Linked DNA regions of Homo sapiens: region 2 is linked to region 1. A link means that fine-mapping ties the variant in region 1 to the plasma level of a protein whose gene starts in the linked region. Region 1 holds a variant in brackets. A gene starts in the other region. All regions are shown on their reverse strands. Region 1 has its middle 190 kb from the start of MIR4642. Region 2 holds the start of CD1C (CD1c molecule).

Evidence for each region. A credible set is the group of variants that fine-mapping cannot tell apart. PIP is the chance, under the fine-mapping model, that this variant and not a neighbour inherited with it causes the effect. The UK Biobank Pharma Proteomics Project read protein levels with antibody pairs (Olink). The fine-mapping took linkage between variants from a reference panel, not from the people measured, so its PIPs are less certain.
Region 2: CD1C starts here. The variant in region 1 is the best candidate, but not a certain one, in a credible set for the plasma level of the CD1C protein (UK Biobank, PIP 0.70).

The regions. Positions count from the first base shown.
Region 1 is chr6:44,616,947-44,628,441 of GRCh38, reverse strand. No RefSeq gene overlaps it. Among named protein-coding and RNA genes, the nearest start is that of MIR4642, 190 kb to the right of the region's middle. RefSeq lists enhancers at 503-1,010, 1,011-1,518, 3,044-3,552, 3,553-4,060, 7,051-7,635. The variant A/G (reference allele first, on the strand shown) is at 5,173.
Region 2 is chr1:158,289,502-158,300,996 of GRCh38, reverse strand. CD1C (CD1c molecule) reads right to left here and starts at 11,074. Exons shown (of 6, transcript NM_001765.3): 1 at 10,872-11,074; 2 at 9,597-9,863; 3 at 8,632-8,913; 4 at 8,123-8,401; 5 at 7,695-7,785; 6 at 6,223-7,542. The coding sequence starts at 10,932. The coding sequence ends at 7,521. It also overlaps a transcript of CD1B not described here.

The DNA of each region.
Region 1 (11,495 bases):
TTTGGATGGATGCACCTTTCCCCACTTCTGCTGTAAGAATTCCCTTTGCCTTCCTCCAGCCCCTGTCAGAGCCAAGTCAGCACACATTAAACGGGCCAGGGCAGACTAAATGTGTCCTCTGGACAATGCAAATGTCTCTTGTGGTATCTTAAGACTTTAAAAACTGTACAGGGAGCTGTGGCTTAGCTCAGTCCTGCTTCCCATTAGGATAAACACACCCCTCAGTGTAGGGACCCACGTACAGCTCCAGAAATAGCCTGCCCACCAGAGAAAATGCACTTTATTTGACAGGCTTCCCACAGCCATGTCATTATCATATAATCTCTTTTATCCACCCCTTTTCCCTGCCTGGAACTCAAATTGCATCTTTAAAATGTCTAAGTAGCAGTTTGGTGATCTTCAGCGATGCTATACTTGATTCTGAGCTGGGAAAATCAGCGTCAAAGGAGAAGTCTGGGTGAGGGGCGAGAGGAGCGTTTTACATCCAATTATTTTTCTTTGAAGAAAGAAGAGTTGAAAATACATCACAATGTACATTTCAATGTCCACGGTTCCGCTTTCATCCTTGAAATCCGCCCTCACAGACCTGGCCTGAGCACCTACTGGGCGCAATGTTTTGCCCTTAGCACTAGGTGGTGATTCTTACTTCTGGCTTCCTTCTCACAGGGCTGGCACAGCCCTGCAGGAGCGTAGATCCCCCGGGGCTCCAGGGGAAATCAGGCAAGAGGCAAAGAGGCAGACCCAGGAAAAGAGTGAAGGAATCTGAAAAAGCTACCTGCTAAGGGGCAGCATCAGAACCACTGGGGAGGGGGAGGGGGAGCGGCTCAGGGCGGTCAAAGACAGTGTCAGAGTGAAACAAGGAAAGAGCTCTAGAGGAAGCAGGAAGTACACCACACACACACACACACACACGCCACACACACGGGCACACACATGCACACATACACACATGCACATGCGCACACACGGGCACACACGTGCACACATGCATATGGACACGCACGCATGCGCACGCACACACGTGCACACACACACACGGGGATGTTGAGGGCTGAAGACTTCTGGGTTCACTGTGTGGGAGGCTGGTGAGCTCCACTTAGCCAAGGCTAACTCTCGGAGCAAAACTGGGAAGCAGGCGGGGTTTGTCTCCTGTGCCCGGCCCACCACCTCCTGCTTCATGCCCTGCTTGGGTGGAGCCTCCCCGCAAGGGGAGTTCTTCCTCTTTCCAGTACTGAAGACCTGCTCTAGGTCCCTCCTGGGCTGAGTGACAAGCCCCAGCTCCACGTGCTGAGGGGAGGATCGGAGAGGCAGCCTGGGAGTGGGGCACTGGGGTGGCTTTCTAAAAGGAAACAAAGCCTTGCTTGTGCCAAGTCCATTTCCAACAGCACACAGGAGGCCTTGGTGGGAGGCCAGAGCACGGGCCCTCTCCTCCCCTGAGCACCCGCCCGTACCAGCCTCTGTGCTCACACTGCCTCCTTGCAGCCTCACAAGGACTGCACATCAAGGAGGTCATTGGCCCCGATTTAAAGATGAGAAAACTCAGGCTGAGAGAGGTCAGCAGGATTCTAGTTCAGGCCTTTCTCTCCCTCAAGGCCTGCTTTGTTCCTCTACCTGCCCTGCTTGCCTGCTGAGGTGAGGTGGAGTGGACTCTGACCTCACGCAAGCTTTGCCTTCCTTACCGCCTCTTAAACCAACCCGAAGAAGCAAATAACAACGTAAATCTCACAATAGGCGAAATTACGCAGAGGTGGGTATTTGCAGGCCTAAAAATCAACCTTTTCTCTTCCTGCAAGTTGCTCCTGACCAATGCTGGGCAGCATTGGCCATCCCAGGAGAAAAGGCAATATAGAACTTTCTGGAAACCCACTAAATTCCTGAGTTCACAGGGGATTGTTGGAGTACCCCAAACCACACTTCATCTCCTGTCATTGTTTCTCTTCTAAGGTGGCAACTACTGTTTCCTCGTGCCTGCTATCAGACCCACTGTGTTTCTCCTCATCTCATCAGAGCCTCCTTGTTATTTCCTTCCCAGAATCCCTACCCTCCACACACCCACACCCACCCACATGCACACACATGAACACACAAGCACACTGACACACACACAGCACATGCATGCACATACTAGCATGCTCATACACATGCACATACTTGAGCACTCATGCACACACATGCATACACAAGCACACTCACACACCCACATGCACACACATGCACACAAAGCAGACTCACACACCCACATGCACACACATGCACACACAAGCACACACACCCACATGCACACACCAGCACACACATGCACACTCACCCACATGCACACATACAAGCACGCTCACTCACCCACAAACACACGCACACACACAGAGCAATCAGTTCCTTTCAAAACCAAAATATATGAACTTATATAATCATATTTTCTTCTACAATTCTGAAGTCTTAAGAAAAAGGTCATTATGCCTACACTTTTGGTTGAGGAAAATTTCAATCATCAAAATAAAGTAACAGAGAAGCAGAGCAGATCTGTTTCTAATGAAGAAAGTTTGGGGAAAGGCAGCTTGCACAGGCACGTGTGTGTCCTGGGTGGTTTACACTGGTGTGCGTGCAGCGGCGGGCTGTTCCTCCCACCCAAGTGTGTGTCCTCGTGCAGGTTGGTGTGTCTGAGCTTGTGTGCCGGGGGACCCAGCAGCACTGAAGCCCCTTGTCCAGTCAGAATCTGGCAGCAGAAAATCTGCATTTAATTGCAAATGTTGTAAAAATAATCACACAGAAGACCAAGCTAGCATTGAAACTATGCGTCCTTGACTTAGTGCCTGAGTGTGGGACATCTTTCTACTGAAATGCTTATAAAGCTGCAAGCCATAAGTCAAAATTTCTTCAAGAACATGTCTTCTCTCGTTAGGATGATTTTACTTCTCAGGGTGTTCCCAGCCTTTTCTGGGAAAAGGAGATGGGGGAAGGGCACGGAGATGGGGGATTTATAGGGTGAGGGCATGGGATGGGAGGCCTCCTTAGATCTGTCTTAAAGATGTCTTTGTTTTTAATTATCCATGTCTTGAACTACAGTGAAATCGGCCTCACTCTTGCGTTTTAAACTCAGATAAAATGCTCTGCGTTGCAGCCTTCTCTCTACCTCCCAGACAGTGGCCTCTCCCCCATTTGAAGATTATTTATTGCTTCTCAACCACCTTTCATCCTGCTAAATGATTCTCCATGCTTGGTGCACAAAACAGCCCAGAGGGATTTTATTTCTCTGAGTGCTGGGCTCTGTCCTCTTACCTCTTCCCAGGGAACACTTTGGGCTCAAAAACCCGCATTGCATTCACTGTCCCAGGCCTGCTCTGTGTCGTTGGCTTCTCCCGACAAAGGCCCAGAGAGTCCCCTGGTCATAGGGCTGCCTCTGGGCCTGCATGACTATACTTTCAAAAGGGGGGAAAATAAACTGCTTTTAGAAGCTTGCTGAGAAGGAGCTCAGCCTGCAATACCTCCCTTCCCAACTCCCCACCCTCCAGGGCATCCAGTAGGTGGTCACCCTTGTGGACTTTAAAATGCAGATTTAGCCTAAGTGGGCTGATGCCAACCTCTCTTGGCTCCCCACCCAGGTCCAAAATAAATTCACACCTCCTCATTTCTGTCCTATTAATCAGTCCCTCCCAGGGAAAAACAAGCCAGTCAATGCTGGCCAGGTGGATGGAACCACAGAATACATGTTTTTAGATATTTTAAAATTAATTTATTTCCTGCTCATATTTTTAATTTTGCTTCCGTTACCAGAACGCAACTGCGCTGTACCTCTTGTTAAGGAAAACTGTAAATTCTAAAGTTAGACTTTCTTTTTCCCCTCAGGAACTGAAGGTTCTATTTGCGGACTCCATGGCCCTACCCCTGAGGCTGGGATCTGGGGAGAGAGGTGACCCCACCCCCCGCCAGCCCCCTCCTCCTTCAGGTTCTCATTTGCAGCTCCACACCACCCCCACTCTGGACTTTCTCTCTCATTTCCTGTCCCACTCCTGGCCCAGCTAGGCTGTGCCTGGGGGGCCCTGCCGGCTCTCCCTGGCCTTGGGGGTGGAGGCGGTGCCTGGGCACCTGGTGTCAGCCTTGCTCTCAGCTGTGCCACTCCCTTGCTGTCCCTTCCAGCCCTAGCCGTCTCCTTCTGCTCCTGAGCCTCTGTAAAAGACAAAAATTCTGAAAGAGTAGGTCAAAAATGTTTCAAAGAAACTTTAAAATGCCCTCATAACATAATTAGAACATAAAAATAGCAAATACTCACTAGAGCTTACCAAGGGCCAGACACAGTCCTAAGTGTTTTCCAGACATTCATTCATTTCATACGCACAGCGGTCTTGTGAGGTGGACACTATGATGATTCCATTTTGCAAGGGGACTGAGGCACAGAGACTGAAACTTGCCTGATGGCTCCCAACTAGAAAGAGGGAGAACTGGGATTTGAACGCAGGCAGCTCTGAACAATGACACCATTCTACCTTGCTGGTAGAAAAGTAGATTTTATCATTTTTACTAGTGCAGTCATATCTCACTTATCAAGAAGTCCATGAATTGATAATCTCAACTATTCAGACCTCGATCAAGAACCGAAAACACAAGTAAAAGGATCCTTTGAGAGAGTAAAGTATAAGAGGCGTCAAAAAAATTCATATCCAAAGGCTCCTGAGGAAAACCTCTCCAGCCTTCCCACAAGATTCTGAGACTGATTAACTCTTCCTGAGAACGTACAGTTCTAACACACTTGGTGAGTGGTCTCCCTGCCACACCCTCTTAGAAACAACAAACTAGAAAGAAATTCATGCCAATCTTTTCATATCAATCTTAAAGAAATGCGTAAGTTAAACCACGGGACCATGACCAGCCATATTTGCAGCCAATATAGATGTTGTTGGTGATGAATTGAAAATTAGCATGGGGAAGTGCTTATGTTATCATTATAACTAAAAAGAAGCAGGGTGCAAAATTATATCTATGGTGTAACTTCAACATGTGCAATAAACAAACAACACTCAAAACTGAAAAATGAGATAAAATGGAAATATATCAAAACGTAGTTTTCTCAAGGTGTCATAGGTGATTTTGTTTTCTTTCTGTTTTTTTGTTTTCTTTTTTTCAAATTTTCTGTAATGAGCATTTTATAGAGAAAAGTTCCCAATAAACTTTAAAAAG[A/G]GAAATAAGGAAAGAGGAAGAGAGAAAGAAGAAAAAGGAGGAAGGGAGGGAGAAAGGAAGGGAGGGTCACTAAGTCAGGTGCAAGCCAGCCATGCAACTGGTGACAAGGGAGAGGAAGAGAAACTATTTAATTCATGCCCAAGAAATCGAAATGCCTAACAGTCCAGGGGCCATTTCCTGGAAAGGCAAATTGCTCTTCATAAATCAATCTTCTCTGAATATATCACCATGTAATCAACTGACAATTAAAATAATAATCGCTATTAACTAAGCATGTCCTTCTTTCCAGGCTAGCCCTTTGTTTACATAATCACACGGACCTTGTGAGGGAGATATGCTTTTCCTCAGTTTACCCATGAAAACCTGAGGCAGGACAATTGATACTCGTTAGGATGAAGATTTGACTCTGTTCATGATACCCAGCTGAGAGGGCTGAGAAGCAAGAAACAAAAAGTATCTATTCCCATCTAAAATGGTGAAAATGGGCCAGGTGCGGTGGCTCATGCGTGTAATCCCAGCACTGTGGGAGGCCAAAGCAGGCGAATCACTTGAGGTCAGGAGTTCAAGACCGGCCTGGACAGCATGGTGAAACCCTGACTATACTAAAAATACAAAAATTAGCTTGACGTGGTGGCACATGCCTGTAAATCTCAGCTACTCGGGAGGCTGAGGCATGACAATCACTTGAACCCAGGAGGCAGAGGTTGCAGTGAGTTGAGATCATGACACTGCACTCCAGCCTGGGTGACAGAGTGAGACTTTGTCTCAAAAATAAATAAATAAAATTGTTCAAATGATTAAAACTATTTTATTATTTAAAGGGTAAAATTCAGGTGTGTGGAAAAACTACTTAGCTAGCACACCTTATAGGGGTAGGCGGTGAATAAGTGAGGAAAGTCCATGTTAATTAAGTTCCTTAGAACCTCAGCAGACACACCCCACGGGGATCCTGAGGGGCTGGGATGGCCTCTGCCTTACCCTGCTGGCTGGATAGGCCCTGCCTGCAGGCACCTTAAAGAGGTACATTCCCTTCTGGAGCCTAAAGCCTTAGAAGTGTGGATATGGTCTAATACTGTCCTCTTTTGTCCCCTTCCTTCCCTCTAAGGAAAAAAGGAGGGAAGGAAGGGGAGAGAAGGTTCTGTGACCCCATGGGCCCACCATGCTACTACACAGCCTGGTTGCTGAGGGAGCCCCAGGCAGGCAGCCAAGGCCTCCATTGAAGTATGTACGTTCTCCAGGAGGGCTGGATGCTCTCATGTTTGTTCTTGAGCAATGACCAGGGAGTGGAACGTGGGAGAGATACAGTTCAATGAATGAAAGAGCCTTTGAATCCTTTCCTTAGAGGCACAGTTAATTTAAAATAAAGTTGTTGTGTTCACAGCATCATAACATTTAAGCTCTGAAAGTCACCTTCACCATCACCTAGTTTCTCGTCCAATTTCCTTTGTTTGTTTGTTTACACATAAGGAAACTGAGTCCCAGAGAGGGGAACTGATTTACCCAGGGTCACGTTGCAAGTCTGTGGCTAAGCCTGAACCACTTGTCACTTTCCTAAATTCTTGCTGGATCAAGCTCATTTTGACAGTGAACCTACAACCATACAGCGTAGAATGATGCTCAGTGTGTCTTCCAGAGACTGCTTGATGCTGCTGCCAGGGAGAGAACACACTGTGTTCCTCTCAGATCATTTATTGAAAATTCTTTATGATGTGGATTCCCAGGCCACATTTCCCTGCCCCTTCCACCTGGGAAGGGTTGAGATAGCATTTACGAAATGACCACCCTGCAAAACCCAAACCACAGCAGATCTCAACCCTAGGCTAAACCTAATCTGTACCCAACCCCAAATACCAAACTTTTCACTGAACCACAAAAGGAACTGAAGTCTTTCAGAAAAATTGATAGTGAAGAATTATGAACCAGAACCAAATGGATATGCATTCAACACAGCTGAAGCAGAACAGGATCCAGCAGATCACAACGTTGTCTGACCCCGGGAAGGCTGAGCTCTTGGCTATTAGTGATGTGGATAGAGAGGAGTGGGGTGAAGAAGCACCTCCCCTGGAAGAAAGAAAGTAGAAGATAGTGGTTAACTACTCCCAGATGTGCACCTCCCATTCCATCCTCCACAGCTGGGTGGAGGACTGGGATCCCTAGAGGGTCAGAGACACCAAAGATTCCTTCATAACAAAGGTAAGGACTGAAGACAGGCAGAATGTCAATGTCTTCTTGTTTCATGTAAATGAATGAACTGTGCTTTGTGTTATAGAAGTGATACAATTGGAAGCCCATATTTGAAGAAAAGAACACGAACTGGCTTCTTATCAGAGGTGCAGCGTTTTAGGAATCTAGCAGCTAAGTTACATTCAGGTGAAGGCAAACACCAGCAGACAGATATTCGTGCACTTGTGTCAACTGTCGGGATGGGTACCTTGGGAATACCAATATGTCCTTTAAGAACAAAATTTAACTCACCTGTTATTTTCCAACTCAAATATCCTTCCTTCCACTGAACCTGCCTGATTATTTCACACCCTCCATGGTAGAAATAATGTCCTCCTCTGAACTGGGACAAAAAAAATATAGCCATATGTCTGCTATAATATTGAATCATTTCTACTTTTCATTATGGTTTTTGCTGCCTGTGAGCAGTTTGGGGAAAGGTCTCCTATCTGACTTTTCCGTGACATCCTGGTCCCCCACAAAGCACCCGGCATGTGACAGTCACACAAGAAATGTTTACTGGATGAGCAAATGAATTTCTCAGGTTGTTGTCTCTGAAGTGGAAACTTTAGCCTCCGTGGGTGGTCTCAAGTGGAGACGCAAACCTGCCACAATCACACGCAAGCTTCTGAGGACACTCCATGCACAGGTGCTATTTGGGGAGGAGTCCACAGATTGTATTAGATTTCCAGAGGGATCCAGTTCCCCAAAAGATTAAGAACCACAGCTCTGGAACTGGGGAGACAGTCCAGATGAGGCAGTCTCTGTGACAGCTTTGGACTTGCGCCCCCAGGAGTGCCTGGTGGTGAGCTTCTGGAAGCTGGAAGATAGGCCATGCCTCCACTCTGTCCCTCTCTCCTTGGCTCACTCAACAATAATAACGTCAATAAATGCCACCATTTTTCAGGGACCTATAGGGTCTGCTCTAGTATTTGCTATATTGCAAATGAAGAACCAAGCCTCAAAGAGGAAGGTGTCACTGATGTCACAGAGCCAGTAAGTGCAGGGCTGGATTCTGAACCCAGGCCTTACTTCAGAGTCCTTATAGCTCTTCCTCTGAGGCAGCTCATCAAATCCATGCAAGTAAGACATCAAGTAGTGTCCCTGGATGACAGGGGCTTCCAGTAAGGAACCCCTAGAGTCTCACCTATATAAAGTGTGTGTGTGTGTGTGCACGTGTGTGATAACGGATGGATGGATGGATGGATCACTGGGTAGAAAAGGAGAAAAGGGACTCCTGCCTTTAGCTTCTTCTAGATGTTTATTATCCAATCCATAGGTATGGCACAGACTGAATTCTATGGATAAACCCTGATTTGGAGAACAATAAATTCAAATAAGAAGGCTGTTGCACTGTGTTAAATATGCTCACCCACCACCACTAAATTAATGTTGAAATCCTAACCCCTAGTACCACCAGAATATGATCTTACTTGGAAATAGGGTCATCGCACATGTGATCAGTTAAGATGAGGCCATACTACAGAGTATGATGATCCCGTAATCCAATATGATCAATGTCCTTATAAAAGAGGAAATTTAGACACAGACAGACACACAGACACACACAGGGAGATGACCATGTGAAGACGAAGGCAGAGGTCCGCAAGCGAAGGGACACCAAAGGTCGTAGCAAGCCACCAGAAGCGAGGAACAGGCTTCCCTCACAGCCCTCAGAAGGAGCCAACCCTGCCCACAACTTGATCTTGGCCATCTGGCCTCCAGAACTGTGAGAGAATAAACTTCTGTTGTTGAAGCGACCCAGTTTGTGGTACCTTGCTATGGCAGCCCAACCAAACAAATACACTGTTTCTCCAAAAGTGTGAAGGTGTGAAAAGGTGCATGTGATCTGAACTCTAGTTCTATCTCATGTGCCAAATTCTAACCTTTGACTCTTTTAGCCTCCCACAAGCTGTAGACAAACAATTCAGGCAGTATTGGCATGGCAGGAGTGACAGAAAGCTATTATGGATTGATTCGATTTTGCCCAGCACATGGCTTTGTCTTCATCAGACTTTTCTTAAATTTTGTACACTCCTTAACTCAAACCACTGCTCTTCAGATGTTTGCATTGCTTATTTGTTTATTTCCAAGGAATACTTAACCAAATCAGAAGCCAAGGCTCTGGAAATCTGGTTGGAACATAACCTCCTCCAGTTCCTAGCTTTACAACGGAGCAACCCTCAGTCCTTAACTGTGACCCATGAGTATTGGACCCTGGGCAAGTCTCACGGAGGGGAAAGGAAAGAGGCCTGAGGACAGCCCCTGCCCAGAAGGTGTCTCCAGCCCAGCCCAGGAGATAAGACTGAAAGGCAGAGTATAAGGTCTGTGTGATGATAACAGAAAACAACGCAAGAGAAGTCACAGCAACAGCCACGTGAGAAACACAACCAGAGTGATGAGTTCCAAAAAGGGAGAGCGAAATTTGGGGAAGTTAAAAAGATGAGAACGGATAAATTAAAATGTGCAGTAGATTGAAATTCAGGCTTTGCCCAAGTCAAGGGGAACTTGAAACTCAAGTTCCCAGATCACATCTAAATTTGGAGCTGTAGTTTTAAGTGGGTTTGAAACCCTGCCAAATTGCCCATCTTTTGGGTTCAAATCTCTTGATTTATTTGAAGCCACAAACATGGCATTTCTAAACAGAGGAACCAAAAACCAGAGAACTCAGCTGGGTTGGAACCCTTCATTATCGTTAATGCCTCTGAGTCCTCAAGGAGCAAGTCCTTACCCCACTGTGGGTGAAAGACAGGGCCTGTTGTGCTTCAGGTGCGTTTTCCGTTCTGTTTTCACTCACATTAAGAAGCTTAAGCCCCTGAGCTGGAGTTACTGAGCCCTTGCTGTGTGCCAGGAACTGGGCTGCATTCATGAGAGCTGCCTGTGGGGCCTGTACCACAACCTGCCCTGGCCTCACACTTGGGACTTAGCCCAGGGACTAAATCATGTACAAGTGCAAAGTAACAAGCCCATACCTGCAGGATGGAGCCACAGACTGGGTCAATACAGATCCAGAAATAGAAGGCACCAGAGGTAACAACTTCCATACATTGTCTTCACTCACAGCTGTCATAATTTACCCACAAATTGATTCAATCTTTAGCAGTGAACAGTGAAATCCGGTAACTGAGGACATCCTCTCCTAAGGGTTCAGTGACCTCTGATTTTCTAATTCTCAGACAAGTCATCCTGGTGAGGTGACTTGTCCTTGAGGAACCTGCAGACAAAATGACTATATGGAGGTGCTACTGTGGAAGGGGAGGGCTGTGAGTCCAGCACTGGCCGGAGGGACATTTCCGAGGGTGACCGCGTGTGTACGTGTGTGTGATATGAACATCCACCAGGCCCTCCTTGACCCACAGAAGCAATGTCTCTGTAACATGAGACCTGGGGTTGGGGGAGACATCCTCCAGAGGGTCCCCCTAGGCTGGCCTGGACATCACCTGTGCTTGTCTCTCCCACTTCAGCATCCTGTAGGAACACACCAGACAGTCAAGGGAAATGAAACAGAGAGGCTGGAAGATCAGACATAACAGAGCCAAGTGGATGGAGAGCTTAGAGATGGATGAAGGCGTGTGACCCATTCCTGCTTCAGTGAGGAGAAACGAGGACACTGCTTCCTAGGGAAGCCCACGAGTTCACGGTGCAGTCAGGCTCACACTTTGATTCTGTCAGTGCACCAAAGGCGCAGGGGCCCTGGGAATCAGGTCGGGATGGGAGGCACAAAAGTGAATGCCAAGGTGCCCTGTATGGCAGGGTAGCTGGCTTGGCCCTTTCTTCCTAGGGGATAGGTCTGCTCTGGAAATCAAATTCCTAAGACACTGAATGAGCAGAGTTAAGAAAAGTAACTCTACTCTGAGAATCCTAATTTCCTCACTGGTAAAATAAAGGGGTTTATTCTACAGCTTCTAGAGTCTTTTCCATTCTTATTGTTTTAACTCATAAACAACAGAAATTTCTCATCGTTCTGGAGTCTGAGAAGTCCAAGATCAAGGCGCTGGCTGATCCAGTGTCTGGTGAGGGCCCATTTTCTCATAGACAGCACCTTCTCACTGCATCCTCACATGGTGGAGGGGCCTTTCTCTAGAACAAGGCACCTGTTT
Region 2 (11,495 bases), not on the chromosome of region 1:
CATGAAGTCAGGCAATTGAGACCATCCTGGCTAATATGGTGAAACCCCATCTATATTAAAAATACAAAAAATTAGCTGGGCATGGTGGTGGGCACCTGTAGTCCCAGCTACTCAGGAGGCTCAAGCAGGAGAATGGTATGAACACAGGAGGAAGAGCTTGCAGTGAGCTGAGATCGCACCACTGTACTCCAGCCTGGGTGACAGAGTGAGACTCTGTCTCAAAAAAAAAAAAAAAAGAGAGAGAGAGAGACAAAGAAGGCCATTACATAATGGTAAAGGAATCAATTCAAAAAGAAGAGCTAACTATCCTAAATATATATGCACCCAAAACAGGAGCACCCAGATTCATATAATGAGTCCTTACAGACCTACGAAGAGACTTATACTCCCACACAATAATAATGGGAGACTTTAACATTCCATTGTCAATATTAGGCAGATCAACAAGACAGAAGGTTAACAAGGATATCCAGGACTTGAACTCAGCTCTGCACCAAGCAGACCTAATAGACATCTACGGTACTCTCTACCCCAAATCAACAGAGTATATATTCTTCTCAGCACCACATCATACTTATTCTAAAATTGACCACAAAATTGGAAGTAAAGCACTCCTCAGCAAATGTAAAAAGAAAAGAAATCACAACAAACTGTCTCTCGGACCACAGTGCAATCAAATTAGAACTCAGGATTAAGAAACTCACTCAAAACCACACAACTACATGGAAACTGTAGTCCTGAATGACTACTTGGTAAATAACAAAATGAAGGCAGAAATAAAGATGCTCTAGGAAACCAATGAGAACAAAGACACAATGTACCAGAATCTCTGGGACACATGTAAAGCAGTGTGTAGAGGGAAATTTATAGCACTAAATGCCCACAAGATAAAGCAGGAAAGATCTAAAATTGACACCTAACATCACATTAAAAGAACTAGAGAAGCAAGAGCAAACATATTCAAAAGCTAGCCGAAGACAAGAAATAACTAAGATCAGAGCAGACCTGAATGAGATAAAGACACAAAAAAAATCTTCAAAAGATCAATGAATCCAGGACCTGGCTTTTTGAAAAGATCAGCAAAATTGATAGACCACTAGCAAGACTAATAAAGAAGAAAAGAGAGAAGAATCATATAGACACAATAAAAAATGATAAAGGGGATATCACCACTGATCCCACAAAAATACAAACTACCATCAGAGGATAATATAAACATCTCTGTGCAAATAAACTAGAAAATCTAGAAGAAATGGATAAATTCCTCGACACACACACCCTCCCAAGAGTAAACCAGGAAGAAGTTGAATCTCTGAATAGACCAATAACAGGCTCTGAAATTGAGGCAATAATTAATAGCCTGCCAACCAAAAAAAGTCCAGGACCAGATGGATTCACAGACAAATTCTACTAAAGGTACAAAGAGGAGCTGGTACCATTCCTTCTGAAACTATTCCAATCAATAGAAAAAGAGGGAATCCTCCCTTACTCATTTTTTGAGGCCAGCATAATCCTGATGCTGAGAGTTTTAGACCAATGTCCCCGATGAACACTGATGCAAAATCCTCAGTAAAATACTGGCAAACAAAATCCAGCAGCACATCAAAAAGCTTATCCACCATGATCAAATCAGCTTCATCCCTGGGATGCAAGGCTGGTTCAACATATGCAAATCAATAAATGTAATCCATCACATAAACAGAACTAAAGAAAAAAACCACATCATTATCTCAATAGATGCAGAAAAGGCCTTTGACAAAATTCAACAGCTGTTCATGCTAAAAAACTCCCAATACACTAGATATTGATGGAACATATCTCAAAATACTAAGACCTATTTATGACAAACCCACAGCCAATATCATACTGAATGGGCAAAACTGGAAGCATTCCCTTTGAAAACTGGCACAAGACAAGGATGCCCTCTCTCACCACTCCTATTCAACATAGTATTGGAAGTCTGGCCAGGGCAATCAGGCAAGAGAAAGAAATAAAGGGTATTTAATTAGGAACAGAGGAAGTCAAATTGTCCCTGTTTGCAGATGACATGATTGTATATTTAGAAAACCCCATCACCTCAGCCCAAAATCTCTTTAAACTGATAAGCAACTTCAGCAAAGTCTCAGGATACAAAATCAACGTGCAAAAATCGCAAGCTTTCCTACACACCAATAACAGACAAACAGAGAGCCAAATCATGAGTGAACTCCCATTCACAATCGCTTCAAAGAGAATAAAATACCTAGGAATCCAACTTACAAGGGATGTGAAGGACCTCTTCAAGGAGAACTACAAACCACTGCTCAATGAAATAAAAGAGGACACAAACAAATGGAAGAACATTCCATGCTCATCGATAGGAAGAATCAATATCGTGAAAATGGCCATACTGCCCAAAGTAATTTATAAATTCAATGCCATCCCTATCAAGCTACCAATGACTTTCTTCACAGAATTGGAAAAACTACCTGATCTTTCATATGAAATCAAAAAGAGCCCACATTGCCAAGACAATCCTAAGCAAAAGGAACAAAGCTGGAGGCATGGGAAGAATGTATATTCTTTTGGTTTTGGGTGGAGCGTTCTGTCAATGTTTATTAGGTCCATTTGGTCAAGTGTCGAGTTTAAGTTCCAAATACCTTTATCAGTGTTCTCTCTTGATGATCTATCTAATGCTGTCAGTTGGGTGTTGAAGTCTACCACCATTATTGTATGATAACATAAGCTTCTTTGTGGGTCTCTAAGTACTTGTTTTATGAACCTGTGTGCTCCTGTGTTGGGTGCATATATATTGAGGATAGCTAAGTCTTCTTATTAAATTCAACCCTCTATCATTAAATAATGTTTTTCTATGTCCTTTTTGACAGTTGTTGGTTTAAAGTTTATTTTGTCTGAAATAAAAATAGCAACCCCTGCTCTTTTTTCTTTCCTGTATGCTTGACAGATTTTTTGCCATCCTTTAGTTTTGGCCTATGGGTGTCCTTGCATGTGAGATGGGTCTCTTGAAGATAACTTACAGGTGGGTCTTGTTTATTTTTTTTTTTTTTGTCTTTTTTAACGTGAGACAGGGTCTCACTCTGTTACTTAGGCCGAAGTGCAGTGGCATGATCACAACTTACTGCAGCCTCCACCTCCCCAGGCTTGGGTGATCCTCCTACCTCAGCCTCCTCAGTAGCTGGGACTACAGGCATGTGCCACCATTCTTAGCTAATTTTCTTGGTTTTTTTGTAGAAATGGGGTTTTTCCATGTTGCCTAGGTTGGTCTCAAACTCATAGGATCAAGCAATCGGCCTGCCTTAGCCTCAAAGTGTTAGGATTACAGGCATGAGCCAGGGTCTTGTTTCTTTATTCAACTTGCCACTCTGTGTCTTGGGGTGTTTAGCTCATTTACCTTCAAGGTAAATATTGATAAGTGAGAAGTTGATTTTGTCATTATTGTTAGCTGGTTGTTATGTAGACTTAATTGTGTAGTTCCTTTATAGTGTCACTGGTCTGTTTACTTAAGTGCATTTATGTGGTGGCTGGTAAGAGTCTTTTATTTCCATGTTTAGCACTCCCTTAATGACTTCTTATAAGGCAGGTCTGGTGGTAATAAATTTCCTTAGCATTTGCTTTGCTGAATTTCTCTTTAACATATAAATCTTACTTGGGCTGGATATGAAATTTTGGGTCAGAATTTCTTTTCTTTAACAATGCTGAATATAGGCCCTCAATGTCTTCTGGCTTCTAAGGTTTCTGCTGAAAGGTATGCTGTTAGCTTGATTGGGGTCCCTTTGTAGGTGACCTGCTCCTCCTCTCTGGTTGCCTTTAGTATTTTTTTCTTTCACATTGACCTTGGATAATCTTATTATTGTGTATCTTGAGGATGGTTTTCTAGTGTAGTATCTCTCAGGAGTTCTCTGAATTTCTTGAATTTGAATGTTGACCTCTATAGTGAAGTTGAGAAAATTGTCATGGACAATATCCTCATATATGTTTTCAATTGTTTGCACACTCTCTCTCTCTCTCTTTCAGGGACATCAGTGAGTACAGGTTTGGTCTCTTTACATAACCTCATATTTCTCAGAGATTTTGTTCATCCTTCTGTATTATTTTTTCTTTATTTTGTGTGACTGAGTTAATTAGAAGAACTGGTCTTTGAGCTCTGAGATTCTTCCCTCAGTGTGGTCTATTCTGCCTTTAATACTTCCAATTGTATTATAAAATTCTTTAGTGAATTTTTTAGCTCTGTCAAATCAGCTTAGTTCTTTCTTAAAATGGCTATTTTGTCTTTCAGTTATTGTATTATTTTACTGGATTCCTTAAATTCTTTGGATTCCATTTCAACTTTCTCCTGAATCTCATGATTTTCATTGCCATCCAGATTCTAAAATCTATGTCTATTATCTCAGCCATTTTAGTCTGGTTAGGAAAGATTGTTGGGGAGCTAGTGTGTTCATTTGGAAGTAAGAAGACACTCTGACTTTTAGAGCTGCCTGAGTTCTTCCACGGGTTCTTTCTCATCTATGTGGGCTGATGTTCCTTAAACGTTTAAAGTTGCTGTCCTTTTGATGGGGCCTTTTGCTTTTATATTCTTTGATGCCCTTGAGGCTTTGACTATGGTATAGGTTTGGGTCAGTGAGCTAGCTTTATTTCTTGATGATTTCAGGGGGCCATGGCTCAGCTCAGCACTCCTGGGCTATATGCTCTAAGACTGAGGGCCTGGGACCAGGCCCAGAACCTTGTTCTTTGGCCCCTTGAGACTGAGCACCTGCTTCACTGGAGGGGGCCAAGGTGCTCCCAGTCCACTAGCAACAACACTCCTATGGTGGGCAGGGTGGGGGGGTCCCAGAAAAGCATTTCATAAGGGCAGTGGCGGTGGGGGTCTGCTCTCACATGCATGTACTGGCAGCAGTGGGGCAGTGGCATGGTGGGGTCCACACTCACTCACATGCTGGTGGTGGTGGGGCAGCAGGGTAGAAGGTCCATGCACATGTACACCAGGGATGGTAGTGTGGCAGGGTACATGCACGCATGTAGGCTAGTGGGGACAGTGCAGCAGTGGTGAGGTCTCCATGCATATGTGCACAGAAGTGGTAGCAAGGCAGTGATGTCTGTGTATGTATGCCAGCAAAGCAGTTGTGGGTGCTGAAGGCAGGTGCATGCTGATGTGAGGCCAGTGACAGAAGCTATTTGGTGGTTTGGTGGGGTCAGCCAGTGAAAGACCTATGGCAGTGGTCTCTGAGAACTGCCTCAGTTGAACATCTGAGGCTGTGCTGCAAGCAGGTACAGACAGGCAGGGATCCTGGGAGAGGCCAGCAGACATGGGGTGGGGGGCTCAGATCAGTCTAGCCCCATCCAAATATCATGGTAGCCCTATTCTGTCCAGGTCTGATAGTCAACAAAGGGGTCAAAGCCACCTAGAGGAGCATGCCAATCCTCGGGTAATGGACATCCCTAACCATGCTCCACTGTAGCTGTTCTCACACCAAACCCTCTGGGTTCCATAGAAGCTGGAGTCCTGTCCCTGCCAACTCTGCAAGTAGCTTTCCCTGCCAACTCAAATGTCTGTGTGGGTCGTGGGGGTCTCCTGCAGCTAGGATTCCAGAGGTTCATGGATAGAGTGGGCCACTTCATGCCTATTTAACCAACCCCTTCCCTAGAAGCCACTGAGGACCAAGAATAAGTCCTAGTGTTTGGCAACCCTGTGTAGGGTTCGCAGCTTCTTCCCCCCTTCAGCCCAGGGTCTGCATTCTCCCTCCATCCACTCTCAATGCCTTCTTTCCAATGATCTTCTCAGAGTATACTGCTCTTCTTGATGGTCTTGTCTCTTGGTGGGAGAAGCTCTTCCTGGCTGCATCTAGTCAGCCATCTTGTCTCTTCTCCCAAAAATAAGTTTAATTTTATATATTTTTGGCTTTATTTCCCAGTTTCCTGGGTGTCCTAGAATCCTCTCTATTGATCTCTCTGTATCTGCAGGTCACAGGGTGACTAAGGGTGCAGGAGAGTCACCTAGGGCCTCCTGGTGCCAAGGAAATGAGCAATGGAAGCAGGACCCAAGCTGGGTGAGTGGGCACAAGGAGACAAAGGCCCTGCCAGATCTGGGAAGCCACCTCCTCCTCCAAAAAAAGTTATATTCATACATGGAATTCTATTCAGCAATGAAAAGGAATGGTTACTAATACACTGAGCAGCATGGATTACTTACAACCATATGCTAAACTGAAGAAAAATAAAAGGCAATACCAAGTAGATATGTTTATTTCCATCTTAATAAAATCATAGAAAATACAAGTTTAAGCTTAAGTGACATAAAGTATATCAGTAGTTGCAAGAATGCCAGGTTGTTGGTGTGCTTGACTACAAACAGGTATGAGGGGTTATGACATTTAATATCTTGATTGTGATTTTGTTTACATGGGCTTATATAATTATCAAAATAAATAGAACTGTACACTTAAAGATTCAAATTTTACTATAAATTATACATCAATAAAATCTATTTAAAATTTTTTGAAATAAATAAAAACATGAAAACAATAGAAAAGAAACATGGACAGATTGAGGAAGCAAACATTGCAACTTCAGGAGAGTGGACACAATCTCATTTGTTTTATCCACCACCAGTTTAGAAGCTGTATGTGCCTGTCTCAACTCAGTACCCAAAAAATATTAGTTGAATTAGTGAATGAAACCTAAAGGGACTAAAGTTTAGCCAAGGCTATCTCAGATAACACAGTCCTTTAGGAAATTTGTCTTCCATATACAGCACAACGGTTGCCTTGATCCCACTCCAACCCTGAGGACCAAATCTCTTGTTCCTTTTCTTAAGTATTCTGTGACATATCTGCACCACTGATCATCACATGTAACTTGCACACTCTCTGTCTATTTGCATTTGTAATTCTCTGTGTTTAGAAAATAAGTGTATCAAGGCACAAGGCTGCACTTTTCCTTAAATGTTTAAGGAGAAAATGAGGGAGCTAAAGGAGAGTGGAATTTATCTGCTAGGTATGAAGCATTTAAACAAAAAGAGAAGCATGAATATTTCCAATGCTACAACAACATTGGGAAGGAATATAATGAGAAAAATTGTCAACATGACAGTTAATCCAACTTAGATATGATGTTTTGTTTTGTGTTTCACTGAGCCTATCATATGCAGGAAAGGCACATTTATCATGATCCTTGCCTCCTAAAAGCTTAAAAATGTGAAATGAAAGACTCAAGTAGCTGCAACACAGGGTAGGAAGTGTTGCATGCACATAACAGTTGAGGGGCTCTCTGGGTTCAGTATGGGTCAAGGAAGATCGTTGGAGGAAATGACATCAGAAATGGGCTTTGAAGGTTGAGTGCTATATAAAAAGTGGAGATTCCAAGAAAAACATTCCAAATTAGAATTTGGTTTTTATTAACAAATGTTTATTATGCAGAAAGAGAAACAATTTAAATGGAGAGTCGACGGGATGGCATCACTATATTGTACTAGGCTCCTGGGTTGCTGGGTTCTTAACACAATGGGGGAGTCAGGGGGAAGAGTCTCACAGGATGTCCTGATATGAGCTGTGAAGGAACAGGAATGGGAGAAACCCTGAATAAGTTGGAGGTGGTAACTGAGGATAAGGTGGAGTAGTCAATAGAGAAAAGCTAAGAGAGTGAAAAATGGAATGTGAAATAAGAAACTGGGAGGAGAGGAGGAAATACAAAAAACTCACCAGTGCTTCTTAAACCATAACACAAGGACTATTAGAATCACCAAGGGCACTATCACTACCAAGGCAATCCAATTCATGGAAAAGTGGTGTCCTGCACATATTGGAAAGATACATGGATGCCATTTTAAACTCACTGCTGATTCTATTCCATCTATTGATTTCCTTACTTAACATATGCATTGGATGAGTTGCATCAGTTATCCTATTTCAGTCACTCTATTCCAAAACTTACTCAAGGAAGGATTCCTCATTTCCCCTTAAATCTCTAGTATCCATGTATCCCTTAGGTCTTACTCCACTATTCTTTAAATTACCCTATACATTTCTTCCTACAATCCCTCACCTAGGTCTGCTATCCTCAAAATTTCCTCTCCCCTAACCTCTAGGCTCAAGAACCACCTACCTACACTTCCAACCTCCAGTCTTACCCCAGTAGAGGATGATGTCCTGGCCTCCTAGACTGCTGTGTCTCACTCGACAAGACAGGCCAGCAGGCTCCTCAGATGCCACCTCCAGGATCACCTGAAGATACCATGTCCCATCAGCATTAGGAAGAATATCACCATGTTTAGTGCCCAGTTGCTCCTGTTCATTCCGCATCCATGTCACCCAAACAGGCTTTGGGTAGAAGCCGGAGGCATGACAAACCAGCAACAGCTGGCCAGACCCAAGGCTGGGGCGACTGGACAGCCAGGCTTCTGGCCTCACTGCAGAGAGCAGAAAAAGTGTTCTGATGAAGAAACTTACACACAACTTACATCCACATACACACATCCACATGAATATGCACAGTTATCTTTTTCCTGCCTCTAAGAAACTATTACCCAGCAACCCCCCTGCTTCTTGTCCTCTTTCTTGTCCTGAGTTTGAAGGGTGGGAACAGAAGGGGCAGTACTTGAATAGAAAAATCTTAGAGGAAGGGGCTGAAACTACTGACCTTGCCTGTGTACATACATCTTCCCTGCATCCAGGAGACCCAAGAGAAATCGGGGGCAAGTGCTTCTTATGAGATTATACACTGTTTCTGTGACGCCTTCATACTGATGATTGAGTAGATGACAGACACTTTGGGCCAAACTTCCACAGCCTGGAGATGGCACCCATGTTGTATTCTGGAAACTCAGTAAATCTAATCCGTTGAAAGCTACCTGAAAGAAGCCTTCTGGGCTCTTTCCAGAATGCAGCTCACAGCCCGCTTTCACCTGTACTTCAAAGGGATCTGGAGGAAGGGAGGAATGAGAAAAAGAGTTCAAACAAAAAAGTGAAAACAACAGTATAAAAACCTAGGGCTGTATCAGGAAGTGAAGCAAGAAAGTTTTACATGGATGTGAGAGTGAGCCAAAGACATATTTGATCAGAAACAAGAGAGAAAAATTGCTGGGGATAGGGAAGGGGACAATAAGAGATAAATGCCTTGAATTAACAAGAAAAAGTGGCCAAGGAAGATGTGGAAAAATGATAGGTGAGCCACATAATATAGGATAGAGGGTGAAGGGGGAGCCTTTGTGAGGGAGGTAGGAGGATAGCATTCCATGACGCATGAAATTGGTCATAATGGTCATTGAACTGTGGACATAGATCTTTGAAGAAATTGAATGGGGGAATAGATTTTATTTTAAGGGAGTCAAGCACAGAGTGGGACAGCTGTGTATCTCTGGATTGTAGGATACAGAGGGAGACCACAGGTGGAAGATAACAAAGCACAAGAAAAAAAATTCCAAAAATAGCAAGAGCCTAGGAAATTTGAGGGAGTCAACATCAGGAATATCCCTTAAAAGGTTCATCTATGCAGAATTTTATGGTGGGATGGGATAATGGGAAATGGCCCAAAAATTAGTAGAGAATATTTCCCTGAAATAGAACATTCTAAAGAACTCCCATAATTTAGATGATTGAACTTACATTTCGAGTAATCTTGACTTGCATGGTCTTGAATCTCCCGAGTTAATCCAAAGAGGTAGAAACGAAATAACAACTCTAGGTCTGACAACTCTTCATTGCTGAAGTTGCCCTTGGACCAGTTATGCAGGAAAATTATTGTGCCTGATTCACTGTCCCAGCCATGAGTCTGCAACTCGTCCAGCCATCCTGAGCCCTGACCTCGTGCCCAGGATTGGTTGACAAATGAGAAGATCTGGATGACATGGAAGGAGACGTGTTCCTGGGATGCTTTTGGTGGAAGAAGGGCAAGTAGTGTAAGGAAAAAAAAAAAAAGAGAGGCAAGGAAAATGGAGAGAAAATGGAAGGTGAACCAGTTACCACAGAGAAACATTAATGACTACTTTAGCTATACCATTTTCCTTACACAGAGCCCCATGCTCTGCCACCATCCTCTAAAAGAGTAAACTGGACCTGGAGAGAGGTATGCTCAAATGGCAACCATTCTGGCTTCTTCATTGATCCATCTTGGGAAAGCCCATCATGCTCAACCCAGATACATGTAACCTTGCAGCTGACAGAGATGTTCATACTATCTGCATTGTCACCACCGGGGAGGAGAAGAACTAGCAGCGGAAACTACAGAAACAGCATGTCATTTGCAGTTGTTTCCTTCTCTCAGAAAAGCCATTTGCTGATCTCTGTTCTTAGCAAACTTATCCCTCTACATCTATATTCTGACTTCCTTCTACCAACAGACAATCTTCCCCATCAGCCACTGACAGCAACTAAGACAATCTGCTTCCCTTAACCTTAGGCCTCCTACTCAATCTCTCATTTCCCCATCTGCTCTGAACTAAAGTTACTCTCTTCCCTTAGGATTTTAGCTGCTCTCCCACTAAGCTCCATCTTATCTACTTCCCTTCCTCAACTGCCTTAGACAAAGTGGTGCGTGGCATTGAAAGGTTGCTTCATCCCTCTGGACCTTGCGTGTCATTTGTAACATAAAAAGGAGAAACCACATCATTTTCCTGGGCCCTGATTGTTTTAACGGAAAATGGAGAGGAAATGGAAATTGAACCAGTTACCACAGAGAAACATTAATGACTACTTTAGCTATAACATTTTCCTTACACAGAGCCCATGCTCTGCCACCATCCTCCAAAAGAGTAAACTGGACCTGGAGACAGGTATGCTCAGATGGCAAGCATTCTGGCATCTCTATTGATCCATCTCGGGAAAGCCCAGCACACTCTACCCAGATACATGTAACCTTGCAGCTGACAGCGATGTTCTTACCGTCTGCATTGTCACCACCTGGGAGAAGAAGAGCTAGCAGCAGAAACTGCAGAAACAGCATGTCATTTGCAGATGTTTCTTTCTCTCAGAAAAGCTGTTTGCTGATCTCTGTTCTTAGCAAACTTATCCCTCTGTACCTATATTCTGACTTCCTTCTACCAACAATCTTCCCCATCAGCCGCTGACAGCAACTAAGAAGATCTGCTTCCCTCAACCTTGGTCCTCCTACTCAATCTCTCATTTCCCCACCTGCTCTGAACTAAAGTTATTCTCTTCTCTCAGGATTCCAGCTGCTCTGCCACTAAGCTCCATTATATCTACTTCCCTTCCTCAACTGCCTTAGACAAAGTGGTGTATGGCATTGAAAGAAAGGTCATTTTGTCCCTCTGGATTTTGCATGTCATTTGTAAGATAAAAAGGAGAAACCATGTCATTTTTTCAGTTCCTGCTTGTTTTAATAGATCACAGTTCTTCCAGTTTCTCCACTTAACTTTGCCTCCACTCTCCATAGTGTCCCCTCTTCTCATCACTCCATTCTTTCTTTCCCCCTTTTGAATGTCCTCAAAGTTTTCTCTTTCCAATTTCACCTCTTTTCACCCATCTTTCTTATTTCCTCATTCTCAC